2 separate regions of the Homo sapiens genome follow, and region 1 is linked to region 2. The links come from fine-mapping of genetic effects on gene expression. A gene starts in region 2. The other region holds a variant in brackets. All regions are shown on one strand. Distances are from middle to middle. Region 1 overlaps RAPGEF1 (Rap guanine nucleotide exchange factor 1). Region 2 holds the start of RAPGEF1 (Rap guanine nucleotide exchange factor 1).

Region 1 (5,368 bases), 120 kb before region 2:
CAGGGATGTCAGTGAGTTCAGCCAAAATTGGCCAAGCCTGGGCCAGAGCAGCACACCCATCCTGCTACCCCCTGTCCTAAGCAGTGACAAATGCTCACTATTATTTTAAGCCACCAAGTTTTGGGTGGTTTGTTATGCAGCAAAAGCAAACTAATACATCCCTGAGAGTCAAACCATCCTGCGCTAGTGAAGCCTGCTCTCCTCGACCTGGCTTTCTACGTGAGGAATAGTACCACCCATCTACTCATCCATCTCATCTATCTTATCTATTTATTTTGAGACAGGGTTTCACTATGTTGCCCAGGCTGGACTTGAACTCTGGAGTTCAGGTGATCCTCCTGTCTCAGCCTCCTGAGGAGTGGGGACTACAGGTGAGTGACACCACACCTGGCTATATTCCTTTTTAATCCTGGAACACAGAGGGCTGATCCAAGGTCCAAAGCGAGATTGGGATAAAAAGGCTAAAATGTCTCTGTCAGTTTATGCCAGACTGGTGATGCTCCCAAGGTGGCCACTCACATTTCCCATGCCTGCCCCTGCCTCACCTGGATGCCTCATGGTCTTTAAGGCCCCAGAGAACCAACCATTCATAGCCTTCCCATCTAGGTGTAGGGACCCGCAGAAGGGCAGGGGCCGCGACGGGCAGCAGAACACATGGCTGAGGCACACGCTTCCAAGGAACGGCCCTGTTCACGCGTTTCCAAGTAAAGAACAGCAGGGAGCAACTCACCGAGGGCACGGGCAAGCTGCCGTGCCGGCTGAGAAAGGAGTTAGAGACGGACACACTGAGGCCCTGAGCGGCACTGCCGTCCTCGGGGGTGAAGGCCACTTTAGTTTGCTGGACACAGTGGGAGACAGAGGAGAAGGAAGAAGCAGCACAGGAGGCCTGCTGGACAGAGGGGAGGAGAGAGAAGGCAGGGAAGGAGGGAGAGAAGCAGAGAACAGTCAGGTCCGTGCAGGGAAAGGCCGTGGAGGTTGCTCTCCACATCCTCTAACAGACGTTCTGGAGAGGGATGGCTTCTGGGCCCAGTTCAGGGACTAAAACCAGCTGCCGAAGGCCATCTGCATGAAAGGGCACCCTCCTTCATTTCCTTACACTAGATCCTAAAAATTGTGTCCACTGGAAGCAGGTTGGGTGGAAGGAGGACGAGGGGGCTGGAGCCACACAGAACTGGGCTGACTCTGGGCTTGGAGCTGCTCCTCTGTGGGGAGTGGATCCATGTGTCATTCACACGTCTTCAGAACTCAGACGGGGCTCCGGCAGCCTGGGTTTGAGTCTGGACCCTGCCATTTCTCACCCGTTTGGCCTTGGGCACTACTTAAAGGTCTCCGTGCCTCAGGTTTTCCATCTGTAAAATGGGGATAACCCTAGTGTCTCCTGTACAGGGCTGTTGGGAGGATGAAATGGGATGATACGTGTGAAGCACTTGAAATATTGCTTACCACACTGTACATGGGCCAACAGGTGTGTGTAATGAGCACCATTTTTGTCTGTGAAGTGTGGATAACGCTTCCTGCATCTGCATTTGAGAGAGGGTGTGACCAGCAGCTGGCAGGACCTGTCAGGTGGTATGCCTGGGCTGTCATTAGGATTGGGTGTGGCTCCCAGGTCTTCTGTTTCTAGCTGTGGGCTTGGATTAAGGTTCGCTGGCTCTGTCTGCCTCAATTTACTTATAATGGGGATGCCAGGAGCTGTGGCAGGGACCATGTAGAGCCAGATGAGAGCCCTGGTGCTTACCTGGGGAGGTGTTCAACACAGATGTTCCTAACAGGCCTCCGGGGGCTGAGCTCGCCACTGCCCTGCAGGCGTGGTAGAACAGGTTCTGATTCCACGTGCTCCCTAGGGGTGTCTCCCCAAATATTCAGAAGCCTGTGGACTCCACAGTATGGAGAAGATGCCCAAGGATGGCAAATGGGCCGAAAATATTTTCAATAAATCTGGCTCAGCAATGGCTTTTTTTTTTTTTTAGACAGGGTCTCACTATGTTGTCCAGGCTGGTCTTGAACTCCTGGGATCAAGTGATCCTCCACCTCAGCCTCCCAAGTAGCTGGGAATATAGGCATGTGCCACCACCACTCCTGGCTCTCGGCAACAGTTCTAACCAAACATTTTAGGCAAGGGGTCTCTAAATGAGGCATTTATGTTTCCATGGTGGGACCCTTTTTGAAACATCTTCAGAGCAATTGAGATTCACATTCTCAATTGTGTCTGTGGGACGGGCAGGGCAGGTGAGGATCTGAGACTCTGAAAATGGCACGTG[C/T]GACACGGCTAACAAGTGGCAGGACTGGAATTCAGGACTCCCAACTCCAAGCTTGGCCTTTCCTCTACTGGACATGGCCACCTCTGAAGTGGCTGAGTGTGGTTTTTGAGTGGAAACAAAACAGCTTGCTTGGTTAGCCACAGCCCACTGAGTATAGGAAGGCTCAGGAACTCCTGGGACTGGGCTGAGCCCCAGGTGATTGATTATACGGAGTAATCCAGGGACATTTGTCCTCCAGTCTGCAGCTGCCTCCCAGAAGAATCAGATGGCCCCTCATGTCCTCTCGCAATGGATAAAAGATGGCCCAGTGCACACCAGTCGCCTCCTGGTAGAAGCCACCAGACTGGCCAGCACACGAGAGCAGCAGCCCAGGCAGCTCTGAACAAGCCTGGAGCTCCCTGCTGGGGAGCTTCCTCTTCCTGGGGAGCATGGCTGGACAAGAGGCTCAGATCTTCAAACCTGACTAGGGCCCTCCATGTTCATTAACTGGCAGCAAAGGGAGAAAGTTTGGAGGGATGCCACAGGTACCCCCGATCTGCTCACCCTCCCAGTGCCTGGGCAGTTCCAGAGCCTCATGGGGTGCCCACGGTGGAACAGCTTGCCTTCTGTGCTGGCCCGTGCTTCCTTACATGCACAGGAGTCCTTAGCACACGAGTGTTTTCTAGAAGAGGAAGGTGCCATGTCTGAAACAGAGTGGCTCTGTTTAAAGCCATCCTCCACTTCAATGGCACTTGTTTTCCTTGGGCCCTCCCCGGCCAAGGCTGGGTTGTAAGTCACTCTACACAGTTAGGCCCATTATGCCAATCAAGTCCACAGATGGCTGTGCACAGACCATGTCCTGTGCTTTGATTGAGTCCCTCCTTTCTGGGAGGTCTATGTTGAAGCCAAAGAAGAAAGAAAAAAATACAAGAGACTGTCAGCAGAGAGAGCAAACACCCTGAGTACAAGCCTGTCCCTGCTGCGCGGGGCTGCTGTGGAAAAGAAAGGTCCCTGCACCCCAGGGTGGGGAGGTGGTGGAGTGGGCGCTGGGCTGCTGGTGAGCATCTAAGGAGGAAGTAAAAGCATCTGTGTGGGAGATGGTGCCTTCCACGCCCAAAACCAGGGCCCTGCCACAGCAGGGAGGAGGGTTAACCCTGCCCCCAAGGAGGGTCATTCTGGTTCCTAGAGACCTGCTAGGATCGGAAGTTCTAGTCACAAGGGAAGGTGTCACTCACCAGCTGCCGCTGCTTGGGGGGTAGGGCGGGCGGCGGGGCCAGCTCCTGCACGGAGTCCACCCCACTGAAGGAGTCGCTGAAGCCGTATACCTCCATGAGGAGCTTGTTCTTCTGCTGGTAGATGTGCTCGTTCTGTGGCGTCTGGTAGAACATAGAGGGCTGCGGCTCCGAGTAGTCCTCCAGCAACTGCATGTAGGCCAGCACTGTGAAACAAGGGAGAAAGCTGCAGCGAGGCCGGGGGAGGCCACATCAGGGAACCCCTCCCCCCATTCTTCCCACAGCAGCTAGGGGGCTTTCCACTGAAAGCACCTCAGAGAGGGACGAACAGACGGAGCACGGAGGACTTTTCGGGCAATGAAATCACACTCTGTCTGATGCGCTAACGGAGGAGACACGTCCAGACCGGCAGACGCGCAACACCAATGGGGAACCCTAATGTGAACTGGGGACTCAAGCGAGGGCACATGGCGGGTGCAGGGATGGCAAGTCTCAGCTACCTCCTGAGCAGGCACTTTCCCCTCGAGGCATGTCGCAAGTGCCACGAGCAGCTGCCAGGTGGAGCTGAGATTCAGATGCCAAGAAAAAGTGGTGGCTCTGCAGTGCTAAATTTTGTATCTTCAAATAAGCACAAAGCCAGAGGCTTCTCTGCAAACCCCAACTAGTCAACAAATCAAGGAAGGCCAGACACTGAGCTGAGGAAGACAGTCACAGAGGTAGGGAGTTTATTTCTTCCCTGAGCCACACTGGGGGTCCAGGTATAGAGGAAATGCTCTCTCTCCAGGAGTGTCACTGAAGGAAAGTGTTCAAAGTCACCTTCTTTATTTAAAAGAATATGTAAGAATTTCTTACTAGCTCCAACAAGCACCGAGCAGAACTTGGTTGTAAAAGATGCACAGGAAGAAATGGTTCCCCTCTGAGGTCAGCTGCTGCTACTGAAAGGGCAGCTCACAGCCCCTTGAGCTTGTCTCACACTTCCTTTTTTTTTTTTTGAGACAGAGTTTCGCTCTTGTTGCCCAGGCTGGAGTGTAGTGGTGCAATCTCGGCTCACTGCAACCTCCACCTCATGGGTTCAAGCGATCCTCCTGCCTCAGTCTACTGAGTAGCTGGGATTATAGGCATGCACCACCGTGTCCAGCTAATTTTTGTATTTTTAGTAGAGATGGGGTTTTGCCATGTTGGTCTGGCTGGTCTTGAACTCCTGAACTCAGGTAATCCACCTGGCTCGTCCTCCCAAAGTGCTGGGATTACAGGTGTGAGCCACCAAGCCCAGCCCCACACTTCCTCTTTAATGCTGCACAACCAATGTCACCAGGCTCCAGACGAAGAGGCAAGCCTAGGAAGGTGATCCCAAGCACCCACAAACTGCTCCCTAAAAAGACTAAATATGACCGGGCGCACTGGCTCATGCCTACAATCCCAGTGCTTTGGGAGGCTGAGGGAGGAGGGTCACTTGAGGCTAGTTCAACACCAGCCTGGGCAACATAGTGAGACCCCCGTCTCTAAAAAGAAAAAAGAAAAGAAAAAAATTAGCAATGGTGGTATGTGCCTATGGTCCCAGCTATTCAAGAGGCTGAGGTGGGGGGATCCCTTGAACCCAGGAGTTCAAGGTTGCAGTGAGCTATGGAAAAAAGAAAAAGATTAAACACAACCATCTCTGCCTGACTTTTCTGTAAAACTGTGATCTCTTCAGGAGGTCTTTCTGAACTCTTGATGTTGAAGTCCTTGTAGACACCTGCTAGCCAAGCACAGAACAGCAGTGATGCTCCCAGCCTTCTAGAAATGAGGAGGACCCAGTCCATTTCAAAAGCAGCCCAGAGGCTGATTTTAGAGGCCTTGCTCCTAACACAGCCAGCATTGCTGGGAAGGTTCAGCCGCCAGTGCTCAGGGCCTGGG
Region 2 (5,368 bases):
AGAATGGCGTGAACCCAGGAGGAGGCGGAGCTTGCAGTGAGCCGAGATCGCACCACTGCACTCCAGCCTGGGCAACAGAGCAAGACTCCGTCTCAAAAAAAAAAAAAAAAATTTTTTTTAAAGTAGCAATGAGGTCTCGCCATTTTGCCCAGGCTTGTTTCAAACTCCTGGGCTCAAGTGATCCTCCTGCCTTGGCCTTCCAAAATGCAGGGATTACAGGCGTGAGCCACTGTACCTGGCTGACAGATGATTTCCAATCCGGTTCATTTTACTTTTCTGTGATTTCCAAGTTTTGACAATGAACATAGAATATTCTTATATTATAAAGATATAAAACATAATATAATCTTATATTAGATATAAAAAGATATAATATAATCTTATATATTATAAAGTTCTTATAAAAGAACTCAGTGAATGTTCTTTTTAAAATAAATTATCCAAGTTTCCCAACAGTACCGTTCTGACAAGACACTATACAAGAAGTTCCTGAGAAATGCTGCACAGATGAACCCAAGTTATTTCTGGAGCAGCAGGTGTACAGGATGGCGACTCATGGTCACTCGGCAAGGCTGTGGGGGCTCAAATTCAGTGAGAAAAATACTCAAGAAATGGCACCTGAACCCAAGCGCCCTGCCCCTGAGAAAAGCACCCTGGCTTCTGGTCAGAGGGCCAGGAATGAATATACTAGGGGCCTGCCGCCCTCTTGCTGTCTGGACAGCCGGAACTCACTGAACCTCTCTGAGCCTGTAAAACTGGGACCATATTCTTTCCCACAGACTAGCTTCAAAAATTTAAGAAGCAATGCATTTTAGGTGCTAAGAGTTAGATATATAGTAAACCCTCAATAAAGCCTACAAAAATGTCCTTCTGTGCTTCAACCACAGCCTGCAAAAGTCATATTGCCTTGTGGGTCCGCTGCAGGGGTGCACCCCACAGAAGTATCCCAGATTCAACCCAGGAAACATAAGCAACTTCCACAATCAAAGCCACAGACCTCCTTTGCAGCTCCCTAAAAATCTGCTTTCCCTCATTCAGCCGCCAAGCTAACCTGCTACCGGGGTTATGACCACAGGGCATGCTCCCAGTACAGGAGCCCAGGAGCACCCGCCCACTTCACCTTAGACCCAAGAATTCGCATTTGCCCTGCAAGGTGCTGCAGGCTAATAAAGCCTGGGGCCCCACAGGCTCGACAGTCATTGAATCTTTGGAGACTCTATTTCCAGGACAGGCAAACCCAGGGACTCGGAAGGTAACTCCCCCAGATTTCTAGGAACACACAAAGAGACGAGGTCTGCATCAAGATTTACCATCTACTCCAACCCACCGGTCCCCCACCTGCCCTCCTTGCAGAGCTGAGCTTGATCGGGGTGGGGAGGGGAAACTTGACTACCTCCTCAAAATACCCCCACTCATCCAGCCTGCTTCCTTTGAAGCAACCGAAGTGGACGCTTCTCGTTAAACTCGAAGCTCGTTAGAAATGACACATTTTACAGCTCAGCTGGGTTCACCCTCCTAGCGCCGAGCCCAGGCCGGGCACCGATCGCTGCAGCCGCAGCAGCACGCGGCCCGGGCTGTTCTTCCCCTGCTTGGGGCTCGAGCCATTTTCGGAAGTTCCCGGGGACCGCGGAGCGGCTAGCGCGCCCGGCCCCGGGTTGCAGGGGCCCCGCCCGGCCCGGCCCCTGGCGCCCCCGCAGCGGCCGCTTCCCCCCGCGCCCGGCAGGCAATGGGCCTGGAGGAGAAGCTGCCAGGCGCCCCGGCGAGGCCTCGGTGGCTTCACCCCGCCCCGGCGCACGGAGGGCCGCACATCCCGGGCGACCCGCGCTCGGCCCGGGGAGCGGCGGAGCCCCAGGGCCGGGCCCGGCCGGAGGGAGCCGCCCCACGCCCGCGCCTCACCTGCTTTCTCGATCTTGCCGGACATTTCCGGGCTGCGCCGGAGGCCGAGGCCGCCGCTCATCGGGCCCGGGCCGGGCCGCCGCGGGGCGACAGGGGCGGCGCGCCCGCCGCTCGCCTCGGCCCTGGCTCGCCACGCCTCAGACCCGCGCCGGCATGGCGGGCTCCGCGCGGCCGCGGCCCTGCGCTCGGCGACCGCGCTCCAGCCCGCCCGGGCCCAGCCGCTCCCGCCGCGCCCGCCGCCGCCGCTCCGCCTCCCGCGCGCCCGCCGCCGCTCCCCCGGCCCGCGAGCCGGCCGCAGCGCAGCGACGCCGCCCGCCCGCCCGCCGGGCCTCGGCCGCGGCCACGGCCACAGCGCCACCTGCCGGGCGCCCGCCGCGCCGCCACAGCGCCCCCTGTGGGCCCGGAGCCGCCCGAGCCTCCCGCGCGACGCGCGAGACGCAGCGCCCCCTGCCGAGCCGGAGTCCCCACGCCGGGGCCTGGGGCCTGGGGTGTGGGGCCGACCCCGCCTGGGACTCCGCATTCCTCTGCTGTGGGACCAGAGTCACCAGCTCCAGACCTGGGACTGACAGCTCCAACCCAGGGTCCTCGGTTGCCCAAGAGCCTGGCCTGCCCCCTCACCAGAGACACAGAGAACCCTCCTGGGTCAGATTTTCCACCCCAGGACGTGGAACTGACGCCCACCCCACCCTAGCATCATCCCGGACCCAGCATCCCCTGTGGGCCAGAGGCTCCACACCAGGGCCTAGAACTCACTCTCACCAGGACTCAACAAGCTCTGCTGGCTGGGAGCCTGTCCTGACCTCCCCCAAACCAGAGATGCAGCACCCCCTTTTTTGTTTTGTTTTTTGTTTTTGAGACCGAGTCTCACTTTGTCGCCAGGCTGGAGAGCAGTGGCGCGATCTCGACTCACTGCAACCTCTGCCTGCCGGGTTCAAGCAATTCTCCTGCCTCAGCCTCCTGAGTAGCTGGGATTACAGGCACATGCCACCATGCCCAGCTAATTTTTGTATTTTTAGTAGAAACGGGGTTTCGCCATGTTGGCCAGGCTGGTCTCGATCTTCTGACCTCATGATCCACCCACCTTGGCCTCCCAAAGTGCTGGGATTACAGGTGTGAACCACTGCACCCTGCCCGCACCCCCTTCTTAATTGGAGACCCCACACCAGGGCCTGGGAGTGGCCTCATAGCACCTCCTGCCAGCCCAGAGGCTCCAGCCGGGGAATGAGTCCACTCTGGCATGAAAGCCCTCTGCTGGCCCAAGGTCTATGCCAAGGCGGAGGATTCATTCTCCACCCCAGCCCTGCATGTGGGACTCAGTCACCCTGCCAGCGAGAGCCACCTGTCCCGGGCTGGGGTTGGCCCTACTCAGGCCTAAATGTCCCCTGAGGCCTAGAGCCTCCATGCTGGCCTGGGCCCAACTCCCTCAGGGACACAGCACACCCTGCCTGCCCTGCTTATTTGACATCCAGAAGGGCACCCTGGGGCTCAGCTGTGGAACTTTTCTAGTGTGGAAATGAGTTCATTAAAAGTCGTGGCTGGGCACGGTGGCTCACGCCTGTAATCCCAGCACTTTGGGAGGCCGAGGCAGGTGGATCACGAGGTCAAGAGATTGAGACCATCCTGGCCAACATGGTGAAACCCCATCTCTACTAAAAATACAAAAATTAGGTGGGCATGGTGGCACACGCCTGTAGTCCCAGCTACTTGGGAGGCTGAGGCAGGAGAATCTCTTGAACCCAGGACATGGAGGTTGCAGTGAACCGAGATCATGCCACTGTACTCCAGCCTGGTGGCTCCAGAGCGAGACTCCGTCTCAAAAAAAAAAAAAAAGTCGTGGTTGGGCACAGTGGCTCACGGCTGCAATCACAGCACTTTGGGAGGCTGAGGTGGGTGGATGACTTGAGCCCAGGGGTTCGAGACCAGCCTGGGCAATGTGTGAAACTCCGTCTCTACTAAAAATACAAAAATTAGCCAGGCACGGCGGCACCTGCCTGTAGTCCCAGTTACTTGAGAGGCTGATGAGGGAGAATCACTTGAGCCCTGGAGGCAGAGGTTTCAGGGAGTCATGATTGCACCACTGCACTCCAGCCTGAGTGACAGAGGAAGACCCTGGCTAAAAAAAAAAAAAAAAAAAAGGAAAAAAAAAGTCATTTAAGAATCAAAGGATCTGCTAAGTCTAAGCACTATTTCGGGTTCTGTGGGCCCTACAAAAGTGGGCACAATTGGTGCTTCCCTCCAAAGAGTTCACAACTTAGCTGGGAAGTCAAAGTTAAATCCTATAATACAAGTAGTAAATAACAACAAATTAGTAACGCAAGTGATGTTCCAATGTGGGGCAATTCTGCTGCCTGCTTCCTGTTGTTAGTCTAAGATGGAATACAAAGAAGTAGCACGCACCACCTGGGCTAGTTTTCCCTCCTGTTTCCCCCAAAATAAGTAAATTAAATAACCTAGTGATGGGGACAGGATTTGGGGGAGGTGCAGGGAGGAGGAAAAACTGCTAATGTTGTGAGAGATTCTTATTCCCATCTCCCTGGACAGTCTAAAGGGTCACCGATTCCACAACTAAGAGCTAGTCAGGCCGGGTGTGGTGGCTCACACCTGTAATCCCAGCACTTTGGGAGGCCGAGGTGGGTAGATCACCTGAGTTCAGGAGTTCGAGACCAGCCTGGCCAACATGGTGAAACCCCATCTCTACTAAAAATACAAAAAATAGCCGGGCGTGGTGGTGCGCGCTGGTAGTCCCAGCTACTCAGGAGGCTGAGGCACGAGAATCACTTGAACCTGGGAGGCAGAGGTTGCAGGGAGCCAAGATCGCGCCACTGCACTCCAGCCTGGGTGACAGAGCGAGACTCCCTCTTTAAAAAAAAAAAAAAGGAGATGGTCATAGATGGCAGCCAAATTTCCCATCATCATTTCATCAGTTGCAGCCCTCTAGAGGTCAAAGGCAAATCCAAAGATTGACAAATTCATTTCCCTCTTCCACCTGATGAATGGATGCTCTGATCCAGGGTGGCCCTGTTCAGCCCTCTTGGCAGATGCCTTACCAGGCAAAACTGGCCCCTGGTCCCAGGCCCAACCCCAAAACACACTCAATGCTGCCCCCAACCCTTCTAGGCTTCTGAGCTGAGAAGAGCCGATATTTTAAATCCAAAATCCTGGTTGAAAAGTAGAAAACTAGACTGCATGGATACTAGGTGCAGTCAGGGGTTTGTGAGAACACAAATATATTTAATAAATTATGACATATCCAATGACAAAAGATTTGCAAACAACAAAGTACTTTGCAAATGGACATTATGGTAAATCAGGGTCACAGAACTTACTTAATAAAGGCTATTCATCAAAGATGTTTATAACTATAGTAGAACACACACAAGGTAATGAAGCAAACGGATTCCCAAAGCCCAGTTCTGGCTGACTTGGAACCTTCTCATGAGCTGCTCCTGCTGTCTAGAATGTTCCCTCCCCT

Evidence for each region. PIP is the estimated chance that this variant, and not a neighbour inherited with it, causes the effect. A credible set is the group of variants that fine-mapping cannot tell apart.
Region 1: its variant is the best candidate, but not a certain one, in a credible set for the expression of RAPGEF1 in sun-exposed skin (GTEx, PIP 0.64).

Annotation. Positions count from the first base shown.
Region 1 is chr9:131,618,321-131,623,688 of GRCh38, forward strand. RAPGEF1 (Rap guanine nucleotide exchange factor 1) reads right to left here. Exons shown (of 27, transcript NM_001377935.1): 11 at 3,476-3,678; 12 at 731-886. Among named protein-coding and RNA genes, the nearest start is that of PRRT1B, 75 kb to the left of the region's middle. RefSeq lists enhancers at 272-1,238, 3,132-3,201. The variant C/T (reference allele first, on the strand shown) is at 2,262.
Region 2 is chr9:131,737,874-131,743,241 of GRCh38, forward strand. RAPGEF1 (Rap guanine nucleotide exchange factor 1) reads right to left here and starts at 2,203. Exons shown (of 27, transcript NM_001377935.1): 1 at 1,897-2,203. The coding sequence starts at 1,957. RefSeq lists silencers at 1,587-1,916, 1,967-2,016, 2,167-2,426.